7 linked regions of the Homo sapiens genome follow. The protein of the gene in region 4 purifies or fractionates together with the protein of the main gene of each other region. This does not show direct contact. Each region holds a gene or a part of one and is shown on either strand. Other genes may lie near its edges.

Region 1 (3,500 bases), on a different chromosome or scaffold from region 4:
AGACCAATTATATTAGGACCTCTAAGGGTAAGATCCAGGCTTCAGAAATTTTTAAAACTCCCAGGTTGCGTCCAGTGTGCAACCAAGGCTGAGAACTACTGCCTTAAAGAGAAAGCATTAAACCTAAAAAGAAGGGTGAAAGATAGTAACCAACTTGTAAACAGATTGTACAGGATAAACTTGAGGCCCAGCTCCTTGATAGACCTCATGTTTTAGTGTAACATTTAATAATCTCATTCTGGATTGTTTAAAAACAAATCTTAATTTGTTTGTGTCTATACTGAGTGGACAAGACTTTAGAAATTAAAGTGCAGTCTAGTTTCAGTATTTTATTATTCCAAAAACACATGACACATTTCAGTAGGAAATTCACTGCCTGCTTAACAAATTGAAATTCTTTGCAATAAAAATGTTTAGAAACTGAAAACACTGTATGTAATTGAACACTGACTGGTTGAACTATATTGTAGTAATGACACATTTTATTACTACCTCCAGAATTTAATTGTCATATAAGCTAACTCTTGTAATACTCAATGCAGCGAATTGAACCGAAACAAGATTAAAAATGTAGATGGACTGACATTCCAAGGCCTTGGTGCTCTGAAGTCTCTGAAAATGCAAAGAAATGGAGTAACGAAACTTATGGATGGAGCTTTTTGGGGGCTGAGCAACATGGAAATTTTGTAAGTGTGGGTTATCACAGTTCCTACTGAGGTAGTATGATCATAGAATGCTCAGTGTACATTCAGCAGGTCTTATGTGAAATCCTATGTTAAAATCTCATCATCCACAATCTTATTTATAAGTCAGTATTCAGTTTTGATTCAGGTAATGTGATCGATAATTTATAAGTACCTAAATTTAGTATAGTATAAACTATATAGTATTTTTTTGCTGACGTCTTCATATAACAAAAGCTAAACATCTAATAACAATAGGAATCTGTAATAGGTTGTAATCATATGTCCCCTTTGAAGAGACTAGATAATGAAGTTTTGATCCTGCTTTTGATTCTTACTGTAAATGTAGGCAGCTGGACCATAACAACCTAACAGAGATTACCAAAGGCTGGCTTTACGGCTTGCTGATGCTGCAGGAACTTCATCTCAGCCAAAATGCCATCAACAGGATCAGCCCTGATGCCTGGGAGTTCTGCCAGAAGCTCAGTGAGCTGTGAGTTGCCTTTTATTTATTCTCCTCAGGTTTGAGAGCAGGGATCATGCCAGGGCATGAGCTTCTTACCACTGATCTGTGAAATTTTCATAACAAAGTTTCCAAGGTGACAGCTTTTTTCACATGCAACCTAGTCTTATTTTTGTTGTGATAAGTTGAAGCCAGTTCTACTGTTGCAGTTCTATGTCACGTTGGCAAAAGCAATGATGGTTATTTTCAAGTAAAGAGAACGTATTTTTTTAATTACTGATATTAGAAATATTTACTTGGATATTATTAAGGCAGAATTTAAAAATAAGGATTAGTGTAGCTCATACAGTACCTGTCTTTTGGAAAACAAATCATTGTGTTGAATTGAAAAATAAAAGCTATTGCTTTTCTCTTTTTTCTTTACAGGGACCTAACTTTCAATCACTTATCAAGGTTAGATGATTCAAGCTTCCTTGGCCTAAGCTTACTAAATACACTGCACATTGGGAACAACAGAGTCAGCTACATTGCTGATTGTGCCTTCCGGGGGCTTTCCAGTTTAAAGACTTTGTAAGTTACACGTTTTGCTGTCAGTACTCGAACGTAATTGGTTCCTAAATATGCCCACTTTTCTCCTAGCAGATTTCCTTTGTTGTCAAGGAAATGCATACAGCCTCAGAAGTAGTATCTTAATCTTTCCCAGATCAGTTTGATTACAATGGATCCATTTCATCCATATGTGTTTCGTATAGGGATTAAAAAGGACAGTGATCAGTTTGTTTTGGTGATTACAGTGAACCTTCTCAGGATCTCCAGGAAATTGGTAACTGCTTAAGAGGGAAACAATTTTAAGTCCACTAAGTTTTTCTTTGTAAAATACAGATTAAAAATTACTTAGAGCAAAAAGGTCTACAAAGGGCAAGGAAGATACTGTTTATCATGCCAGTTATATCCTCAACCTGATCTCTGTCCTAAGAGAAAGAAAAGGGAGTTAAATTAATTGACCTTTGAAAAATTTCTCAAATGGTAATTTAAGGTTGTGCAATGGGCTTTTGATTTTTGCTCTGTCAGAAACTTTTGCTCTGTTCGCTATTTGAAGCATTACGTAATTGAAAGACATACTGTATGCTTTGGCGAACTTCTGCATGCGTGGTTGGAAGAGTGGTTTTAAAGTTTAATGTATTTTTCAGACTGTTCGGATCATTCAGAATGTAGTCATTTTGATAGAGGAATTAATAGGGCCAGTGTCAGCTTTTTCGGATTTTAGGGAAAAACTTAAAATGTTGTTGAGGGAATCAGGCAGGGTGTAAGAGGTAAGTTGGAGAAAAAGAGTTTTCTATTATTTTGAGAGAGGTGGAGATAATGTGGGGAATTATGAGAAATTTTTTACAAATGATATGCCACCTGGGTGGTGATACTAGGCTTTCTGAGCTTATCACTCTAAAGGGAATGCTTCTTTTAAAATTAGGGATCTGAAGAACAATGAAATTTCCTGGACTATTGAAGACATGAATGGTGCTTTCTCTGGGCTTGACAAACTGAGGCGACTGTGAGTATGAATTGCCTCATAATTTAGCTCACTCTTTGATTTAAAAATTTTGTCTTCACTGAAGTCAGCTATACAAGTTGACATCATGAAGAGATGAGAAATCAGTGCTTAATCTGGTTACCACCCTTGATCCTCTCCCCAAATGCCTGCTGTTGCGCAAGATGTATATTATTAACTTTTTCTTCCTTAGGTGAAAGTGTTTTATTCAACATTTTAGTATGTGTAATTTACTTTAATATCCTCATAATAATTTTCATCTATGTTGAGGGCTTACACTTTTGGAATTATCATTGCGTAAAAGTTAGTGCAGGCACTTCCACATCTTGAAATCCTCAATGTTGTACTGTCCCCGTAGGAATTTTTTTAATGAAGTAATCTAGTAGCCACTGATAATGCTGTGGTAGGTTACAAGCAAAACAGGATGAAAACATCTTATAATTAACCATAAAATGGTCTTGCAGATGGTCAAATTACATGTGTTAAGCCAGCAGTATTCAAATTCAGCTCCCTATAGTCCCAAACTCCTATGGATGGAAGGTATCCACAGAGAAGGAGAGGAAGGAGAAAACGTTCACTATTATCTGCTTTGTTAGTGTTCTGAGACAGTTTACTTGAAATAAAGTCTCTACCTATTCCTAAAAGGACTCTGAAAAACAGTGATTTAACTTAATCAGCAGAGTGACTTACTGAATACCTATTTTTGTTGGGCTCTTTGTTGAATGCTTCAAAAACCATGTTCGACTACATTATTGAAATAGATGGCATGGACACATTTTTACAGGATATATTGTTTAATTGAAGAAAA
Region 2 (3,500 bases), on a different chromosome or scaffold from region 4:
TTACTATGTGTAGAGTAAACCTTTTATTTTTGAACAATCATGTTCCTATGCAAAGCATTAAGATCCAAATAAGAGGCTGGGCGCAGTGGCTCACACCTATAATCCCAGCACTTTGGGCGACCAAAGTGGAAGGATTGCTTGAGGCCAGGAATTCAAGACCAGCCTGGGCAATATAGTCAGACCCTGTCTCCACAAAATATTTTTTTAAATTAAAAAAAGAGAGACAGAGAGAAAAAGACCTAAATAAGACATGATTTCTGCCATCTGGGATAAAACAATACATATTTGTAAAGTAATGTAACAAATGCTATAAAAAGAAATACAACGATGAAGACAATTTTAAAGGATGGAATGATGGCCAGGCACAGTGGCTCATGCCTGTAATCCTAACATTTTGGGAGGCTGAGGCAGGCAGATGGTTCAAGCTCAGGAATTCAAGACCAGCACAGGCAACATGGTAAAACCCGGTCTCCCCAAAAAATACAAAAATTAGGCAGGTGTGGTGGCTTGCGCCTGTAGTCTCAGCTACCCGGGACGCTGAAGTGGGAAGATCACTTGAGCCCAGGAGGTTGAGGCTGCAGTGAGCCATGATCATACCACTGCACTACAGCCTGGGTGACAGAGCGAGACTCTTTCTCATAAAAAATAAAATAAAATTTAAAAACCTTAATCTGGATTTTAAAAAGAATATCAAATGCTTGCCACTCAAACGTGGACAAGCAAGTCATTGTAAACAGAGAGAAAAAGACAAACAGCTAAGTAATCAGGGGAGCCTCAATGGCAGTGTAGCACAATTAAAAGAATTGAAGTCAGTCAATGCTGAGACAAGACACTGAAAAAGCAACATGAGATTATGCCAAGTCTTGCATCTCATTCTAAATGGTGTATATATCACATAGATTACAGAGGAAGTGCTGCCAACTTTTAAACACAGGGGTAAAATAATCCAAGTTCTAGAAAATCTAGAGGCAGAGGTGTTGCGGATGAATGGAGAGCAAGAGGAAGGCCTAAATTAAGTAAGTGGCAAATCGAGTTAGATTAGTAAGAGATTTTAAGAAATTAGAATTGGCAATACTTTAAAGACTCATTAGAAGTAAACTTGAGGAAATAATCCAATTTGCCTGCAATTGGGATAATGACTGTGGGGATAATACAAATCCCTAAAGAGCATATAGGATGAGTGGTAAAGATTACTGGTAGTGGGAGGTTTCCGGATGGCTTTTTTTTTTGGGGGGGGGGGGATGCAGTTTCACTCTTGTTGCCCAAGTGGGAGTGCAATGGCACGATCTCGGCTCACCGCAACCTCTGCCTCCTGGGTTCAAGCGATTCTCCTGCCTCAGCCTCCCGAGTAGTTGGGATTACAGGCATGCGCCACCACGCATGGCTAATTTTTTTGTATTTTTAGTAGAGACAGGGTTTCTCCATGTTGGTCACGCTGGTCTCAAACTCCCAATCTCAGGTGATCCGCCTGCCTCGGCTTCCCAAAGTGCTGGGATTACAGGCGTGAGCCACCACGCCTGGCCTTAGCCCACTTAAGTTTTTAAAGCAAAAAAGATGTTCCATCTACAAGCCTTGTACCCTATTTTTAATAATTAAATGTGCAACTCTGGCTTTATTCTTTATAATGTGCTTTTCAAAATAAAGATGATGCTAATACACTCTCATTAGGTATGGTAAAACATTTCAATGGTGTGCAAATGCATACTTTATGCGCAGAAAAAATAAACATCTTCCTTTACAAAATGTAAGTACTAATGTTTATCTGATCTAAAATAAGGCAAAATTTATGCAAAGTGGAAAAGGTCCAGAAAATTTTTTAAACATTAAATTTAATTTAAAAAATAATAAAAATAAAGGTAAAATAAAGCAAAATTTAATTGTCAGATGATTTCCAGTAACTATAAGAAATGTTTTAAATGTTTAATGTAATCTGAACATCAAATCCCTAATAGAGATAAATTAGTAAAGCTATTCTAAATTTTTAAAACTTACCTGTAGAGCATGACATTGTATGGAAGAAAATTAGGCAGCACACTCTTAATTATACGTATAGGAAGCCAAAGCATCAGGAGGACAATGGAGCCAAAGACAATCTGCAGAAGGAAACAGGGTATGACACCACTATAAGAGTCAATCACTCCTGTGCAAGACAGGCAGACTTCTGAGCACACTCAAGCAATATGCAGTCCAGGCCTGTGTCTACTCAAAGCCCAAGCGGTTCCCACTCTACACATTATCTTTGAGTCATTTTGTATAAAAATGTTTTCCTAAGATGCCTGCCCCTCTTCCTGTAAGGACCTCCCATCTAGGACACAAATGCTAAAACGGAAGCCACAAAGGATAATCACCACTTGCTACCTAAGGAATGAGCTGGAAACTTAAAATGAGGAAGCAGAAATGCCTGCAACTTAATAAATCACTTGTAACCAGCTAAGACTTGCCCCATGTTAATGGCTACAAAAGCTTTCAAAGGACATAATGTTACTTTAAGAATTTTATTTTAGAAAAACTTAGATTTACGGCTGGGTGAGGTAATCCCAGCACTTTGGGAGGCTGAGGTGGGCGAATCACTATGTCAGGAGTTCGAGACCAACCTGGCCAACATAGTGAAACCCCGCATCTACTAAAAATACAAAAATTAGCTGAGCTTGGTGGTGGGCGCCTGTAATCCCAGCTACTTGGGAGGCTGAGTCACAACAATTGCTTGAAACAGGGAGGTGAAGGTTGCAGTGAGCCAAGATCATACCACCGCACTCTAACATGGGTGACAGACCAAAACTCCATCTCAAAAAAAAAAAAAAGAAAGAAATTAGATTTAACTATGTAATTTCTTCTTCTGGGTGGGGAAACTTTGACATGCTTCTGTTAAGAGTTTAATTTACAAGCCAGTAGTAAGTCTCCATTGCTTCAATGCAAATTAAACGTAATTCAGACAACCGTAATTTAGCAATCAATCATACCAGTGGTCCCCAACCATTTTGGCATCAGGGACCAGTTTCATGGAAAACAGTTTTCAACGGGATTTCAGGATGAAACTGTTCTGCTTCAGATCATCAGGCATTAGATTCTCATAATGAGCACACAATCTGGATCCCTCGCACTCGCAGTTCCCAATAGGGTTCCCGCTCCCATGAGAATCTAACGCCAAGGCTGATCTGACAGGAGGTGGAGCTCAGGTGGTAATGCTTGCTTGACCGCTGCCCATCTCCTGCTGTGCGGCCATTCCTAACGGGACATGCACCAGTACCCAGCCAAAACATGGGGGCTAGGGACCCCTGAATTATACTACTATGGAACAAGGAAGTATCTTCCTTTTAGTAAATATCTTTTTACATATTTATTTTAACAAAGTAACCAATAACACAGCTACTTGACAACTGAATACCACAGGCTTAGATAAATATATTATTCAATATACTCTATCAGCCTGCTTGAGAACTGGAAAAAAAAACCTAAACAAAACTATAGGTTAGCACAATTAATTCAAAAAAAAAAAACAA
Region 3 (2,911 bases), on a different chromosome or scaffold from region 4:
GGGAGACCCACTGCTTGCCAAGCAACTGCTGGGCTAGAGCCCAGGCTGTGCGGCCTCCATTGTAGAGGGAGGGTTTTTATGCATATCCATCCCTCACTCTGGAGTCCTGCACTTAATCTGCACTTTGGGCCTTACTTGGGGGTAAATAGCATCATTGTGCACAGAAATGCCAGACAGTGTTTTGTGTTGATAGAAACGTATTCAGAAAGCAATGCCCATTGTTCCCCCTGGCTAAATAATAATTCCGTTTCCAGGCAGTTTGCTGATTAATCAGACAGGTGTCTTTCGTTCCACCAAGAAAAACAAAATCTGTCAGCAAGATGATTAAGAATAGATAGGCATATTTCAAAACAATTAAAATAGCATTTTTACAAGTCTGGTCCTTTAAACATTGAGTAGCTGCCTGCTGTTGGAGGCTTTCAGGAAACACACACCACATCCAAGCATGCCATCCTGTTAATACGCAATACGTCTCTAAAGGTGCTCTTCAGGCATTCCTCCCTGAATATGTCTGAAACCTCACAAAAGAATAAAAAATAGAGGCAACCAAACCACTGTTGAGTCAGGAAACACAGCAGAGATTATATTCTGGTTAAAAATAGAATGACCTTCTCCACCATAAAGAGAAAATGAAATTAATTTAGTCAAGGAGACAAAGGTCACCGGATCCAGATGATTCAACTTTTAGAAAGGCCCAGCTGCCTTTGGCCTTTGAGTTGGGGACCCTACGTGTGGTGAGGGAATGAACAGCGCCAGTAGTGCCCTGGCCTTCTGTGGACGCACACCCGGCAGCAGTAGGCTCTGTGTGCCTTCGCACATGTGAGTTATGATGCAGCAATGCAGGAGAAGAATAAAGCAGCTGTCTGTTTCAGATGACAGGAATAGGCCACTGGACTCCATTCTCTCCCAGCTGCTGTTGGAATCCCGTTTGTAGGAGGCTATAGGGTGGTCTCACTGCACATGCGCAGGTTTCCTAAGTCTGGTGCCAAATGTTTTCTTGGTAAGAACTAAGTCCAGTGCTTTTATAAGAGAGCACAGATACTGTTGGACTGCAGGGTCACAGGTGCCCTTTAATCCTCCACACCTGGTCTAGTACCTAAGACGTGTTTTGTGAATAAATGACTAAATGTTTCTTATATTTAATTGTAAGAAAAAGCTTGAAATGAAGTAAAAGGAGCTTTGACTCCAGAAACATTGAAATGAAACAAAGGAGTTCAGCTCTTGATGAATTGGTTACCTCTTTTATCTTTCAGAGTCAGAGCTGACAAATTTGGCAGGATTATACAGAGATGAACGATTGAAACAGAAAGCAGAGTCGCTGAAACTTGAAAACTGTGAGAAACTTTCCAAACTCATTGGCCTACGCAGAGGTGGCTGAGAGGATAATGGTCCTACGCAGGGCTGGGGTTTTGCTACTTGTTCCTATTTATGTTCCTGATTCCATTTTATAATACAAAACTAGGTAATGATGAACACTTTACTATTTGCTAACTTCGTTGGTTGGGCAGAGTGGCAGGAGCATGGGCACGAGAGCCAGATGTGTCTTCACAGGATCCTTCCTGGGGAGTGGCTCCAGGGACCAGGAGTAGTTCATCTAAGTTAAATTAATGGCAAGGCATTGGATTCCGTCTCCCTGCTCCATGCCTACCCTGCCTATGTGAATGGAGTTCAGGGCATCCCAGAGCAGATCCATGCTTTCTTCCTTCTTCCCTTCTTCAGTGAAGTCTTAAGAACCAGGCATTCCTAGGCTTAGCCAAAGCTTAATATTAGTTATTTACACTGTCTACCAAGAATTATACCTCTCCCTTCATTAGAGTCATCATCTCCGCCAAGATTTAGCCTTTGGAACATGTTCCTGCCCAGCTTTCCATTTTCTAGGGGAATATGGAGAAATTTAAACTATTGTAGTCAATAGTTTTCTATTATTCCAATCTCTGCTCAGTTAGTAGCATTAGCAAACTGCCTAATTTGAGATTCCTTTATTTCCTTAACCCTCTCTCCTTTAGAGAGTCCAGAAATTAAAACTACTGAGCAGCATCTGGAGGCGGGGGCCAGGGCGAAGGTATAATGCAAGACCGAGCCTCATCTCCTCCACGAAGCCTCCCTACTCCATCATAGAACCCAGAGAATGTCCCTTCGGTCATTTCCCCTCAGTATCATCATTGGTGTCATCGCACTTAGGCTGAGTTCCTACATCCCACAGAGGCAGATGGTCAGACCCAGGAGGAGGCATTGCCAGCTCTCCAGGCTGTTTGCTCAAGCCTAGAGATAGAGGAGACAGATCCTCTCTCCTTGGATATGGGGGTCTAGCTTTGGCCCCAGCAGCCACTTTGTTTAACCCAGTATCCTATAGTTTGTGATTTGAGATGATTTTTCATTCATTCAACATTTATTGAGTGCCTACTATAAAAGCAGGGGCTCTCACACATATTTTCTTACTTAAACCTCCTCACAACTCTGAAGTAGATGTATTATCCCTGGTTCTATGAATGAGAACATTGGCCCAGAGAGGATGACCCAGGTCTTGTAGTGGCAGAGCAAGACGGTAGGCTGAGTGTCAAGTAGAAAGTGGGAGAGCATCCTCATGTCTCAGGTGATTCTAGCCAGACTGGCAAAGCAGAACCTTTCCCGAGGATGCCTCCGTCCTCCCCAACCCCATGACCCCTCATCTTTTCTGTGGCAATCTTGCATCTGTTCAGGACAACATCCCTGCTGCTCTTTAGGAAGCAGGACCCTGTCTAACATAAATTCTGTACACAAAATAAGAGGTCCCTCACAGGCAGGCAGCCCTCCACTGGTGACTAGGAAGAATTCAGTCACTGCCTGGGCTGTGTGGTTCTGGGCCTTCCTGTGGAGCTGAGCTGCCTGAATTATCATGACTCTGAACTTGGAAGGATCATTAAGTGACTGT
Region 4 (4,030 bases):
GGCTGGAGTGCCGTGGCTACTCACAGGGGCAATCATAATGCATCGTTATATATAGTAGTATATAGTCCCATTTATATGAAATGTCTAGAATAGGTAAGTCCATAGAGCCAGAGCCAGAAAACAAATTGGTGGTTTTGAAGGACTGGGTGGGGTAGGGGAGTGGCTGCTAATGGGTATTAGGTGATGAAAACATTTTGGAACTAGACAGAGGCGGCGGCCACACAACATTGTGAATGCATTCAATCCCAGGGAATTGTATACTTTAAAGTGGTTGATTATTTTATGTGAATTTCACCTCAAAAGCAGAACGAAGCGAAAGCAACAATAATGCACAACAGAACTCTGATTTTATGGGTTTGCATTGTTTTCACATCCTACATGCTCATGAAGATCTGAAGGGATACCCATTAAATTCACCGTCACGATTGCCTGGCTGGCCATTGCATGGTTTGCTGCTTTGTATGTAGCATTTCAATTACATAATAAGAAGAAACAGGCCAGGCATGGTGGCTCACAGCTGTAATCCCAGCACTTTGAGAGGTCAAGGTGGGAGGATCCCTTGAGCCAAGGAGCTCAAGACCAGCCTGGGCAACAAAGCGAGACCCCATCTCTACAGAAAAATTAAAACTTAGCCCAGGTGTGGTGGCAAGCACCTTTACTCCCAGCTGCTCAGGAGGCTGAGGCAGGAGAATCATTTGAGCCTGGGAGGTTGAGGCTGCAGTGAGCCATAATCACACCACTGCACTCCAGCCTGGGCAACAGAGCTAGACCCTGTCTCAAAAAATAAAAATAAAAACAAATACGTGTGTGTGTGTTGGTTTTAAAAAATTATTTTAAAGGACATTTAGTTGGGCAAATGACCCAGTTGGAGAAGAATGAAGGTGACGGGGCATATCAAGGCAGCCTCTGCAGTCCCTGGGGGCAATGGCAGGGCTGCCCTCCTGTCAATTTCAACAGTCATGGGCCCAAACCCCAAATCTGTAGAGCACTAGACTCTGCTCAAGCTCTTGACAAGCTCAGGGAATTGACTCACCCCTGGCAGGCGGGGGGAATGGGAAAGTGAGGATACAGATTCCCTGAGGTTGCCTCCTCTCTGGCAGGGTCCCTGGGGTCCCAGCATCCCTGTAGCGGAGACAGAGACAGTAGGACCACAGCGAGGGAAGCCGGTGGGCAGGGAGTCAGGGAGGGATAAATAATCGCATTTGGGCTCAGTCAAGCCCCCGGCTCAGCTGGTGTGGCTGCTTGGTGCAGCCCACACCTGGTCAGCTCCCACCTGTGGAGAAACTCCAAACTAGAGCCTCCTACTGGGATGAAGCAGAAGCAGATGCCTGGAGTCCCAGGTGAGTCACCTCCCCTCTCAGCCACCTGACCAGGAGAGACCTGGGGAACCAGCACCTGCCAGGGACTCCAAGAAACCACCTGTTTATATTACTCCTTTAGCAATGTGAGTCTACAGGGCAGTGGGTGACAGGCAGAGGCCACTCACCACGTCTTAGTCAGTGTGCTGTTTGCTTAGCAGGACTTACCTTCTTCTATTTTTTTTTTTTTTTTTTTGAGACGGAATCTCGCTCTGTAGCCCAGGCTGGAGTGCAGTGGCGCAATCTCGGCTCACTGCAACCTCCGCCTGCCAGGTTCAAGCGATTCTTCTCCCTCAGCCTCCTGAGTAGCTGGGACTACAGGTGCGTGCCACCATGCCTGGCTAATTTTTTGTATTTTTAGTAGAGACAGGGGTTTCACCATGCTGGACAGGCTGGTCTTGAACTCCTGATCTCGTGATCCACCCGCCTCGGCTTCCCAAAGTACTGGGATTACAGGCATGAGCCATCGTGCCCAGCCAGGACTTGCCTTCTTTAGAGCTCCTGCTGCCTCATGAGGTAGGTCCCTTGGATGGGGGAGGTAACAGGTGCAGAGAGAAGACAGCCAATGCTCAATGTGACCCAAGGTGATGGTTTGATTTTAACCTCTCTTCTCGGTCTGTCCAGGCAAGAAGTCTACGGAAAAAGGATTGGGAAGAGGCGGAGAAAAGAGAGAAAGAGGATTCAGGGTTCAGAAGCTCCAGCCACCACCCCAGGGTGTAAAGAATCAGGGTGGGCCGGGTGCAGTGGCTCATGCCTGCAATCCCAGCACTTTGGGAGGCCAAGGTGGGAGGATCACTTGAGTCCAAGAGTTTGAGGCCAGCCTGGGCAGCATAGTGAGACCCTGTCTGTACAAAAAAATACAAAAATTGGCCAGGAATGGCAGGCACCTGTAGCTACTCCAGAGATTGAGGTGGGAGGATTGCTTGAGCCCAGGAAGTTAAGGCTGCAGTGAGCTGTGATTGTGCCTCTGCACTCCAGCCTGGGTGACAGAGGGATACCCTGTCTCTCTCTCTCTCTCTCTCTCTCTCTCTCTCTCTCTCTCTCTCTCTCTCTCTCACACACACACACACACACACACACACACACACACAAGGGAGGCGTCAATGGGAGCAGGTGGTGAGGGAATGGTTAGGAGCTGGGGATGAGAAGATGGAGAGAAAAGAGAGGGAAGTGGTGGCTTAAGTGGAAGAGAGGGGAGGCCAGACAGCTTCACTAAGAAGAGAGAGCCAGGATGGGTGAGAGTTAAGGCCAGATGGGGTCTCAGAGACAAGACAGGCCTGGCCCATGGAGTGATGCTGTCACCCAGGAGACACGTGACAACGTATAAGGACATTTCTGATTGTCGTGACTGGGGAGTGCTGCTGGTATCTATCTGGTGGGTGGAGACCAAGAATGCTGCTCAGTCTCCTGCAGTGCACAGGACACCCCTCTGAGAGAGAATGATTCGCCCCTAGCGTCCCTAATGCTGAAGGCAGGAAACCCTGCTCTAGGGATGTCTGTGGCAGGACTTGTCCACAGCCACGCTTAGCCCTAGAGTCTCTGAGTGGAGAACTGGCCCCACCGGGTGTTCCTGTCAGTGCTAGACAGTGGGCTTGCTTGCTCTCTCTCTTTCTTCTCACCTTTTTCTTCTCTTTCCCCTCTGTCCTCTCTTTCTCCCTACCTCTCTTTCCTCTCTCTGTTTCTCTTCCCACCTCCCTCTCTCTCCACTTCTCTCTCTCTCCCCACCCTTCTCTCTGTCTCTCTCTCTCTTTCCCCAACCCTCTCTCTCCCCACCTCCCACACTCTCTGTGTCTCTCTCCCCACTTCTCTCTCCCCACCTCTCTCTGTGTCTTTCTCCCTGTCCTTCTCTCTCTCTCTCCCCCCACCTCCCACTCTCTATCTCCCCACTTCTCTCTCTCCCTCCATCTCTCTCTCTCTCTGTGTGTGCTCTTTCCCCACATCTCTCTGTGTCTCCACCTCTCTGTCTCTCTCTTTCTCTCTCCCCACCTCTCTTTCTTTCTCTCCCCACCTCTCTCTCTCTGTTTCTCCCTCGCCTCCTCTCTCTCTCTCTCTCTCTCTCTCTTCCCCTGCCTCTCTCTCTATCCCCATCTCTCTCTTTCTCTTCCTACCTTTCTCTCTCTCTGTTTTACCTACAGAGGAACCCACTGGATGTTCTGCTGGTGAATCAATGCCCAGAAGCTCTAAATCCTCCTCGCTGCTATCCTAGTCCCACATCCACCATGGGTTTGGTTTTGTTTTACTTTTTAAAATTAATAGACTTTATTTTAAGAGCAGTTTCAGATTTACAGAACATAGAGCAGATAGATACTGCAGAGAATCTCCATATACCCTCTCTCCGCCTGCACACAATTTCCCCTATAATTAGCAACTGGGATTTTTTTTTTTTTTTACCATTAATCTGTTACAACTGATGAACCAGTGTTGACACATTGTCATTGACTGAAATCCACAGTTACATTAGAGTTCACTCTTGGGGCTGTACATTCTCTGGGTTTTGACAAATGCACAATGTCCTGTATCTACCATGACAGTATCACACAACATAGTTACACTGTCTTAAAAACCCTCTGTGCCCCACCCATTCATCCCTCCCTCTCACCCACTGGTCCCCTGGAAGCCACTGATCTTTTGCTGTCTCCATGGTTTTGATTTTTCCAGAATGACTGGACTAC
Region 5 (3,500 bases), on a different chromosome or scaffold from region 4:
GAACCATGCTCTACATCTAGAGGCAAAAGAGGTTTTTCTTTCAGAAAGTATGACCAACTTCAAAAATTCCTTAACACTTATTTTAATCAAGTCACTATAACACTGGCCTATGGGGATGCAAGAGCTGTATGACTTTTCTGACTTCAAAAGCCTTTAAATTTGTTTGAATTTTGTTCTTCCTATTATTTAAATAGCATTAAATCACATTTGTGTATGTTGTAAACATAGTGAATAGGCATAATAATTAGATTCTAGTTACCTCTTACAGGTCATGTGACTTTGAACAAGTGATATATTTCTGTACCTTGGTTGATTCATTTGTAAAATGGGAAAAATAACAGAATTTCTCAGAATTGGTATAAAGATTAAATAAAGTAATACGTAATACATGTAACATGCTTAGAAAAATGTTTGACACATGCTAAGTAGTTGGTAAATGTTCTCTGATGCTGTGATAAATACTATATTCAATATTATCATACATTTTCACCTTATCTTCTGCATTTTTATTGGAAATGGATGAAATAGCACATAAACTCTTTTGAGCAGAGAAAGGTAAGAAATGGAAACAAAATACTGACAGCTTCCATCTATAATTTGCCAATGTAATCACCACATGGTGTGGCAGTGACAGAAGTCATTACCATCACTCCTTAATGGAACCTGTGCAGCTTGCTGATCACCCTATCTGATCCCTAGGGGACAGAGTAGTATTTCAGTTTTTGACAGACTTGAGACAGCAGGCTGTCCATTATTAAACTAGACATCTGGACCCTGTTGTTAACAACTAGTTGTTTATAATATGTGGACAATCTACAAGTTTTCCCACAGGGAGTTAAATGAGGTTGAAATGTGTTAATCCACTTTTATCCCTATTCACACAGTGATTTACAAGATGGCTAAGTGTGCCCTTGTAATAACAATTCATCATTATGATTCTGTGTAAGTCCAGTGCAAGAAAGCCAGGAACAACCAGTTCACTGTTTCTTAGATTTACTGTTTTCTGGCTTTATATGCAAAGTCCATTTCTTACCCATATTTACATACTGTGAAAATTGGAAGTAATACAACTCTGAATTCAAGGAATGTGTACACAGAGGGATATGATTCTCACCCTTTAAAGCCGTGGCATAATTGCAGTAGTGCTAAGACTACTAAAGCACTGATTGGAAGAGAGGTACAGCTAAGACTCTAAAGAGGAAAGAGGTCAAAGAGTTGGAGATGTGCTGCCAGGCGATTGTCCCCTACACATCAGCCATGCTTGACAATTGGGTTCTGTTTCTGTTTTCCTTCACTGCTTCTATTTCTCAGAAAAGACTAAGATAAATACGTTCAATCTAAGGCAAAATTGTGGAGAGAAATCTCACTGTCCTTAGTCTCCCTCTTTTGCTGATTATCTTCTGCCTCACATCCAAGAGCATATTTTTCTTTCTTTCAGGCAACTAGGGCTTTCCAGGTTCTCAACTCTTTACCTCCAAACTCCAAAGCCATCTCCACTTCCCAGTCAAGAGAGACAAATAAGTCTAATATCACTGAACTAATTTATTTCATTTACGTTAATGATTTATTTTTTCATGTATATGCAATGGTTCCTCCTTAATCTGAAATTATACTACATGTAAGACTTTATGTATGAGTCAGCTTGTTCTAGTTGTACCTAGTTATTAAGGAGTCAGGGTCAGAAATTTCTAATTCACTCCTCTGCTTTTATATGACCAGCTACAGAGAATCCAACATCATTTCACGGTGTTTTCTGGCCTCCATGGAGCCTAGTTTTCTATTCATCTGCTGCAAGCATGTACGTGATCACTCTTCTACATGAGAGGTATGCAATGAAATATCCCTGTGTCTTAGGGTCCGCCAATACCGAATTTTCTGGGACAAATTGTGAAGCCAAATACACATAAACAAAGCTGTAAGCTGGAGAGATGGAGGTGGTTGGCTGCAAGGCATGCAAAGGAACCACAGCTCCTAAGAGCACAAAGTTTTTGTTTTTATTACATGAGCGTTTAATTAAGAAAACTACAGTGACAAAACACATAATATCAGAAAAGTTGTCACTATCAGTGATTGTTTTAGGCAACAAAAACTAATGATGTAGTTTGGTTGACGAAGTAAAACATGGTTATGATGTGTGGTGAATTTCTTGGTTTCTATGTTATGGAGCACAACAATAGAAATACATTTATATTAGATATCCATACTTGATATGGATCACACTGAATGACAGATTAACAGTGTTCTATATTTTATTTAATTGCAAGAGTAAAACAGTATCTATGCTCAATATTGACAATTTGTTTATTCATAAAATTTGGTCATTTGCTGATACCTTTAAAATTTCACACACCACCAGCACTTCTACTTCTAAAGAAGTTTCTGGCCTTGCTTATCCATCTCTACTCTACATAGGCAGAAATCTCAAGATGAGAAGGGACTTAAAGTCCCCCACCTTCACTTGTATCCTACCATCTACAACCTCACCCAACCAGTTTTGACTTTGTACTGTGTATGAAATTGTGTCAGTGCTCCAGGCCCATCCTTCTCTTCTATAAGTGATTTTCTCCATAGCTATGGATAGCTTCAGTAACAAGCCACATGTAAAGCCTAGTTTGGTCTCTTGAACTCCAGACCCATACTTCCAAATGCCTCCTGACTCTCCTCAGTTCCTTGAAAATGCCTTGCTCTCTCCCAGCACTGGCCTTTTAGGCAAGCTGCTCCTTAGCCTGAAATATTCTTTTCCCATTTAATCTACCAGCATCTTCTCATCCTTACACCTCGATCTCAACACAGATTTCTTTGAAAACTTTCCCCAGACCACTATTTCATCTGCCAGACTAGGCTCATCTTCAATCATGCTCTCTCATAACATTGTGCCATTCTCCTTTATAGCCTAGCACAACTGTAATTAAGTTCGCATATGTATTTTTAAATCTAATATCGGTTTCCACTACTGTAAAATCATTTACATCTGAACTAGGTCTATTTTGCTCACAATTTTATCCCTAGAGCTTAGTGTGCTTCTTGATAATTAGTAGGGTGTTTAATGTCTGTGAAAGAACGATGTCAATGCTATTAAGGGTTTCTGCAGGCTATCATTTAAATTTTGAAATGATAAAGACCAATATATCCACAACTGTCAGAAGTTTCTGTAGGGAGATGTTATTTAGCAAAAACAGAATTGGCTCTACTGATACGGTGATTATTTTAAACCACTTATTATGATGGTGTTTCACCAATTTTATAGCCATCTTACCAATTCTCTGACCCTGTATGTTAGCCTACTTCCTTTTTTTAGAATTGCCACATAAAATTACAAAACAATGTAAAAGATAAATTGCCCCATACTGCATTTTTATTCCTAAATATTTTATCTAAAAGTCTTATTTCTTTGGTAATATGTCTGACATTCATATCCATCCTAATTTCAAAAAGAAGTTGAGCAGATGATTATAACATATTGTTACCAGTATGGATACAGTTTATCCTATTTACTATCT
Region 6 (3,500 bases), on a different chromosome or scaffold from region 4:
CATGCCTACGATTGAGTGCTAGGCACTGGGAATATAAGGATACATTCCTTGTCCTCAAGAAGGTGTTTAGTGCCAAGGTGTAGTGCCCAGCATGGGGAGCTATGGAAGCTCAGAGGACCTCTATCTTTTATTTTTGTTAATACTCTGAATGGTATCTTTAATATTATTAATGTTTTCATTTTATAACTTGTATATATAGATAGAAAATTTTTATTTAGTCGTCTTGCTAGACTTAACATTAGTTTTAGTAATATCTGGTAATTCTTTTATATTGACACAATTGTTGCAGATGATTGCAGTTTTGTTTTATTCCTGACTAGGACTGCTATATAGAAAGGAAATTGTTTAATTATTTCACCATCGAATAGTGTGGTGTAGCTCTTTTTGTATTAATAGATAACCTTTATAAGATTAAGGAAGTTGCCAGGTGCAGTGGCTCACATCTGTAATCCCAGCACTTCGGGAGGCCAAGGTGGATGGATCACTTGAGGTCAGGAGTTTGAGACCAGCCTGGCCACCTTGGTGAAACCCTGCCTCTACTGAAAATACAAAAATTAGTCAAGCGTGGTGGTGGGTGCCTGTAATCCTAGCTACTCGGGAGGCCGAGGCAGGAGAGTCGCTTGAACCTGGGAGGTGGAGGTTGCAGTGAGCTGAGATCGCGCCACTGCACTTCAGCCTGGGGGACAGAGCAAGACTCTGTCTCCAAAAAAAAAAAAAAAAAAAAAAGATTAAGGAAGTTTACATTCATGTTTATGGGTAGAATATAGCCTATAATTTTTCTTTCTCATTCTGTCCTTGTTAGGTTTTGGTATCAAAGTTTTATTAGCATTTTTTATTTTTGGTAGACTTTTTATAAATATTTGATAGAGTTGGTAAAGTCATCTAGGCCTCCAGTTTTGTTTGTAGGAAGATTTTTTATAACCAATTTAATTTCTTTAACAATTACAAAATTCTTCAGGTTTATTACTTCATGAGTCATGAAGGTTACAAAATATAACCTATTGAACTCATGCTAGGAATGCTAGGAATTTGTCAGGGAGAAAAATAAGAGAAGAGCTTATAACATGTAAAGGTGTTTATTAAAATATTGTTTACATAAGTGAAAAATTGGAAACAACATGAAATTCTAACATTGTAGGAATGATTATTTTAAGGAACATCTATTCAAGGAGTGTTTTGCAGCAGATGAAATTGTGCTTATGAAAACTATAAAGCAACATAAAGATATTTGATATGGTGCTAAATGAAAAAGTAGGATGTGATATTTTTTGAACCTCATTGATTTGTGGCTATGTATATAGAGAGTACAAGTTAATATACAAAAGTTTAATAGTAACACTATTAGGTGGTTGAGTTTTAATTTAAAAGTTTAAATGCCCCTTTGCTCTGTGTCACTTTATTTAGCCTTAGTGATTATTGTCAACAGATGTAATAAACTGTATATCTCTTTATTATTTCAACTTTTATTTTAGATTTCTGCTTAAAAATAATGCAAACCGTGCTGAAAATACAGAGGGAAAACAAAATTGAGTTGTTTTTCCCGTTTTCCAGACTTACTATATAATATCACTGTTTTTTAGTGAAAAAAAAAATTACACTGAAAATTTAAAAGAGTAGAGGGAATAATATATCAGAAGGGAGAGCCCTTTTCCTATTTTTTGGGTTGGGGAAAAATGTTTTAAGTATGTGTCTGTGTTAATAATATCTGACATAAGAGCCAATAGAATATATGGTCTTTGTTCTCAGGATACTTTTCTAGGAGGCTTTTAAAAAATTCATCTTCAGGTAAAATCGAATATACTTTCCTCCACAGTCTCCTTACTTCTCTTCCCTCTCCCCTCCCCTCTTTCTCCCTTTTCACAGAGTCTCACTCTGTCACCCAGGCTGGAGTGCAGTGGTGCAATCTCTGGCTCACTGCAACCATTAATTCTTAATATCTTGTTTTAGTTCCCCCCCACCCCAACATTGATTAGGCCTTTGTGGGCTTTGAATATTGTCCAAATAAATTTCACCTAACGCTGGATTTTTACCTCTACTTATAGTGATTTATAATCTTTAAATCATGTTAGTGTTTTTTTTTTTTTTTTTTTTTTTTTGACGGTCTTGCTCTGTCACCCAGGCTGGAGTGCAGTGGCACGATTTCGGCTCACTGTTACCTCTGGCTCCCAGGTTCAAACTATTCTCCTGCCTCAGTCTCCCAAGTAGCTGGGACTACAGGCACGCATCACTACACCTGGCTAATTTTTTTGTATTTTTAGTAGAGATGGGGTTTCACCATGTTGGACAAGCCGATTTCAAACTTGCGAGCTCAGGTGATCTGCCTGCCTCCGTCTTCCAAAGTGCTGAGATTACAGGCGTGAGCCACTGCGCCTGGCCTAAATCATGTTAGTTTTAAAGTTAGCTATCAATAATATATTTGTACATCTTTTTATGTTACTTTGCTTTTGTGGTATGTAAAAACAAAGGGGTCTTTAATGGATAATGAATTATCTACTGTAACTAAAATGAATATTTTAGTTTTTATGTAATATTTTTGGGGAACATGTATTTTTTATTGCAATTCGGGGCATAAATGGGGAATTTTAGAAGCATATATTAACCTATCTAATATTCTGTTTTGATTGGAAAAAGTTTAAATGCCTTTGCTGTGTGACACTTAATCCTTATTGATTATCGTCAGCAGATGTAATAAACTATATATCTCTTTATTATTCCAACTTTTATTTTAGCTTTTCAATGATCTGTTTAAAAATAATGCAAACCGTGCTGAAAATACAGAGAGAAAGCAAAATCAGAATTATTTTATGGAGGTGATGACTGTAGAAGGAGTCTATGATTACCTGATGTATGTAGGTAAGATCTAAGTGGTTTAAGACTTGTTTTTCATTCATCTTACTTCTTCTGTGATGCAAATAATGATCTTGAGTATTGCCCCATCATAACTGTCTTTTTAATTGAAGATACCTTTTATAATAATTCAATACGATTGGCCTTGATCATATTAAAGTTGCTAGTGTTTACAAATAAAATATTGACCATGGTCATTTGTGTTTTCTACATTGGCAAATTTCAAAAATACCAATTCATCTGGAACAATGAGGTATCCCATTTGATCCTTTCTCAGGACGGGTAGTTTTCCAGGTTCCTGACTGGCTTCATCATCTCTTAATGGGAACTCGAATCCTCTTTAAAAACACCCTGGAAATGTATACTGATTACTATCTTCAGTGTAAACTAGAACAGCTATTTCAGGAGCACCGTTTGGTCTCACTCATAACACTTCTCAGAGGTTTGTATTTTCTAATGTGTTTGTTTCATATTTTGTGTACTCTATGATTTTAATTGAATCTAAAGAGGAAGAAATCTTGTTTTGCTTTGGTTTATTAGTATTTCTACTATGAGGAAATCCTTTGTGTATAAATAGATGAAAATTCCAGAAATATTTCTTTTTACTCTTTTTTAGATGCTATATTCTGTGAAAACACTGAACCTCGCTCTCT
Region 7 (3,500 bases), on a different chromosome or scaffold from region 4:
CAATTGGAGCACACGGTGCCGGGCGCAGTGGCTCACGCCTGTAATCCCAGCACTTTGGGAGGCCAAGGCGGGCGGATCACGAGGTCAGGAGATCGAAATCATCCTGGCTAACACAGTTGAAACCCCGTCTCTACTAAAAATACAAAAAAATTAGCCGGGCGTGGTGGCAGGCGCCTGTAGTCCCAGCTACTCAGGAGGCTGAGGCAGGAGAATGGCGTGAACCCGGGAGGTGGAGCTTGCAGTGAGCCGAGATTGTGCACTGCACTCCAGCCTGGCAACAGAGTGAGACTTTGTCTCAAAAAAAAAAAAAAAAAAAAAAAAAAAATTGGAGCACACAAATACAACCAACATGGAGACTTATTCTGCCAGTGGTATAAGTGAAAAAGCTCCAGGGCTGCAGCTAATCAGAAGTCCAGTGGGGGGCCGGGCGCGGTGGCTCACACTTGTAATTCCAGCACTTTGGGAGGCTGAGGCAGGCAGATCACTTGAGGTCAGGAGTTTGAGACCAGCCTGGCCAAGATGGTGAAACCCCGTCTCTACTAAAAATACAAAAATTAGCCAGCCACAATGGCACGAGCCTGTAATTCCAGCTACTTGGGCAGCTGAGGCAGGAGAATCGCTTGAACCTGGGAGGTGGAGGTTGCAGTGAGCCAAGAATGCACCACTGCACGCCAGTCTGGGCGACAGAGCGAGACTCCATCTCAAAAAAAAAAAAGAAAAAAAAGAATAAGTCTACTGGGAATGAGGAGTTAGGGGCTCCAGAGCCTACCTTGGCCAGGGGTTGCTGGTGCCCACTACCCAGGGAAGAGAAGCCCCAGGCCCCCTGCATGTCACAACATGCCTGGAACCTGGCACCCAGGTGTGGAGGTCACCACTGCATGGGGTCCTGGACACTGTACAGGACACCTGGAGATGCTGTCACTCATGGAGGGGTAAAAAGCTAGGGAGGTGTAACAACTGCTCATGCTAGAATGACATGGCGGGAATCGCGCAAGCAAGACAAGGTTGCCCTGTGGGTGAAAGTTACAAAAAGGGGGGGTTGATTCCGGTTCTGGATGCGCTTTCTCCCGGCCGCATCTGCCCAGTAGCAGAACCAGTAAAGAATCCAGAAGGCAGTGAACATCCCCCCAATGGAAGGATTTGGGCAGAGACTAGCTGTCATCACGGGGAGGCTGTGAGTGGGGCTCATGGTCCCGTGGCCCCTCCTGAAGCAACAGTGTGATATGGGGAAGAACATGTTGGATTTGAAGCCTAAAGACTTGGCTCCTACTTTTGGCTTTTCTGCTTGCTAATTGTGTTTGGGCAAATCTGGCCCGAGTTTTCTGTACAATAGGGACAGTACTAAAAATACTCGAGAGAGTTTTTGTGAATGTCAAATGAGGCAACGGCGAGGCTCTTAGCTGCAGTTACTAACTTTCATATGATTAGTCCCTGGTAAATTTCCCCATCTTTCCCGGTATTTCTGGGGGAGCCGCGGGAGGTGGCAGCTGAGCGTGCACTACCATGCACAGCCCTCTGTGACCAGCACCTGCTGTTCTCTTGAACGTGTGTCCCTGCCCGCCGTCCTGGCCTCCAGCTCAGCTGTCTCCAGTACTACACGGGACCCAGCAATGCAACGGCAGGGATGGAAACGGAGGGCAGCTGCCTGGAGAACCCCAAGTATTACAACTATGTGGCCGTGCTGTCCCTCATCGCCACCATCATGCTGGTGCAGGTCAGCCACATGGTGAAGCTCACGCTCATGCTGCTCGTCGCAGGCGCCGTGGCCACCATCAACCTCTATGCCTGGCGTCCCGTCTTTGATGAATACGACCACAAGCGTTTTCGGGAGCACGAGTAAGATGAAGCGTGACTGGGGATCTGTATTGTCTCCTTCCTCCCGCCCGCAAAGTCCTCAGTTCAAGCTCATGGGCCTGTGCTGAGGTGGCTTTCTGCCACTAGGGGTCCTCAAAGGCTTGTTCAAGAACCAGTTCCTGGCTGCTCACAGACGTATCACTGTTTGGCTAGGACCTGAGAATAGATTCTTCCCATTCTCCCCGAGTGGAGGACTTGGGATACCCCGGTGCCTGGCTGGGCATCAGGCTCTTGTTCCCAGATGGGGCCTGACTGTGCTGTTATCTGTCCAACAGCTTACCTATGGTGGCCTTAGAGCAGATGCAAGGATTCAACCCTGGGCTCAATGGCACTGACAGGTAAGGGCCACGGCTTCCCCTCCTGGCCTGCACTCACAGCCCTTCTTCTAGAGACAGGAATATAACAGGCCCAAGCCCCGGGATCTCACCCTCCCGGGAGGCACGTGACCTGATACGTGCAGGTTAGAGAAGCTGGCATGGGTTCCTCCAGGAGGGCTGCAGCAGTGCAGTGAGGAGGGAAGGAAATACCAGGTGGATGGCAGCTGCATGTAACTGGCTGGCAGGACAGACAGGCAGCAGGAAAATGAGGAGGGAGGAAGACGCTTTGGATTTGGACCTGGCTTCTGAGCCTGCAGCAGGCAGTAATTCTCTGTGGGTCACAGGCAGGTCCGTTTCCATGAGTTGCAATTTCATCTCTTGAGGAGGATACTGAACCAGAAGTTCTCTAAGGTCCCTGCCAGTGCCAAGGTTTTAAAATTTTATGATTCCATGACTTGAACAGACCTTCAAGGAAGTTTAGAAATAAAAAGATGACCTAATAGAAGAGGGGTAAAACCTGCATAGCCCTTAGCAAAAGAAGAACTCTAAATGGCCACTAATAAATGGCACTCAAGTAATCAAGGAAATGCCAGTTACACCCTAGTGAGATACCATCACACACGTACCGGTCCAGATAACTCTGACAATATCAAGTACAATAGTAACTCTTACACTCCTGGTGGGAGTATGAGTTAGTACAACCGTGTTAGAAAATATTTTGATCTATTTAGTAAGGTTGAAAATAAACCTGTGTCCCAGCAATTCCACTCCTACATACACACCCACGCAGACGTGTGTATATGTGTATATATATATATACACACATCTTAGAGAAATTCATGCACATACTCATGTCCCAGGATATATGTATGAGAATGTCCAAAGTGGCACTGTTCGTAATAGACATACCCCCTCCCCCAAAACAAATGAAAACAACCCAAATGACATCAACAGGAAATGGATACATAACTGGTATATTCATGCAGTGAAATACCATACGGTAATGGAAACTAACCACAGCTCCACATAAAAATATGTATGAACAAGGTAAAAAGCCATGGTGAGATTGTACCCCAGTCCCATGGCTATGAAATCCCATCACTGATGTCTCTTGCTTCTCCAAATTCCTGCATGGTTGTAGCTACCTCTGTGATCAGTCAGGCAATGCAGTGTTTCTTAAATACCTGGGGAGCAGCCCTGATGTGAATACCAGGTGCAGCCAGGAGGGGCCAGGGGTTGCCTGGCTGTTGGAGAGGAGCCCAGTGAGTTAAGAAAATTTTACTGCCCGGGGGAGCCCGACTTGATGTGAAAGGGCCTAAGGAGCCGGGG

Evidence for each region.
Region 1: the proteins of OR10H1 (region 4) and LRIG3 purify together in Homo sapiens (affinity purification with mass spectrometry; one large-scale study listed by BioGRID and IntAct). This does not show direct contact.
Region 2: the proteins of OR10H1 (region 4) and MARCHF6 purify together in Homo sapiens (affinity purification with mass spectrometry; one large-scale study listed by BioGRID and IntAct). This does not show direct contact.
Region 3: the proteins of OR10H1 (region 4) and DNAJC18 purify together in Homo sapiens (affinity purification with mass spectrometry; one large-scale study listed by BioGRID and IntAct). This does not show direct contact.
Region 5: the proteins of OR10H1 (region 4) and KCNT2 purify together in Homo sapiens (affinity purification with mass spectrometry; one large-scale study listed by BioGRID and IntAct). This does not show direct contact.
Region 6: the proteins of OR10H1 (region 4) and SNX14 purify together in Homo sapiens (affinity purification with mass spectrometry; one large-scale study listed by BioGRID and IntAct). This does not show direct contact.
Region 7: the proteins of OR10H1 (region 4) and ADCY3 purify together in Homo sapiens (affinity purification with mass spectrometry; one large-scale study listed by BioGRID and IntAct). This does not show direct contact.

The regions. Positions count from the first base shown.
Region 1 is NC_000012.12:58,886,005-58,889,504, reverse strand, and holds part of LRIG3 (leucine-rich repeats and immunoglobulin-like domains protein 3 isoform 2 precursor), read left to right. Parts: intron 1-542; coding exon 543-686; intron 687-1,032; coding exon 1,033-1,176; intron 1,177-1,572; coding exon 1,573-1,716; intron 1,717-2,614; coding exon 2,615-2,695; intron 2,696-3,500. UniProt on the Homo sapiens protein: May play a role in craniofacial and inner ear morphogenesis during embryonic development. May act within the otic vesicle epithelium to control formation of the lateral semicircular canal in the inner ear, possibly by restricting the expression of NTN1.
Region 2 is NC_000005.10:10,405,695-10,409,194, reverse strand, and holds part of MARCHF6 (E3 ubiquitin-protein ligase MARCHF6), read right to left. Parts: intron 2,094-3,500; coding exon 1,993-2,093; intron 1-1,992. UniProt on the Homo sapiens protein: Endoplasmic reticulum membrane-associated E3 ubiquitin ligase that plays a critical role in mitigating endoplasmic reticulum stress, the regulation of cholesterol and lipid homeostasis, and ferroptosis.
Region 3 is NC_000005.10:139,412,615-139,415,525, reverse strand, and holds part of DNAJC18 (dnaJ homolog subfamily C member 18), read left to right. Parts: intron 1-1,253; coding exon 1,254-1,378; 3' UTR 1,379-2,911.
Region 4 is NC_000019.10:15,812,865-15,816,894, reverse strand, and holds the start of OR10H1 (olfactory receptor 10H1), read left to right. Parts: upstream 1-1,230; 5' UTR 1,231-1,340; intron 1,341-4,016; 5' UTR 4,017-4,030. UniProt on the Homo sapiens protein: Odorant receptor.
Region 5 is NC_000001.11:196,598,441-196,601,940, forward strand, and holds part of KCNT2 (potassium channel subfamily T member 2), read right to left. Parts: intron 1-3,500. UniProt on the Homo sapiens protein: Sodium-activated and chloride-activated potassium channel. Produces rapidly activating outward rectifier K(+) currents. Contributes to regulate neuronal excitability.
Region 6 is NC_000006.12:85,513,859-85,517,358, reverse strand, and holds part of SNX14 (sorting nexin-14), read left to right. Parts: intron 1-2,729; coding exon 2,730-2,853; intron 2,854-3,124; coding exon 3,125-3,289; intron 3,290-3,463; coding exon 3,464-3,500. UniProt on the Homo sapiens protein: Plays a role in maintaining normal neuronal excitability and synaptic transmission. May be involved in several stages of intracellular trafficking. Required for autophagosome clearance, possibly by mediating the fusion of lysosomes with autophagosomes.
Region 7 is NC_000002.12:24,826,238-24,829,737, reverse strand, and holds part of ADCY3 (adenylate cyclase type 3), read left to right. Parts: intron 1-1,576; coding exon 1,577-1,836; intron 1,837-2,129; coding exon 2,130-2,192; intron 2,193-3,500.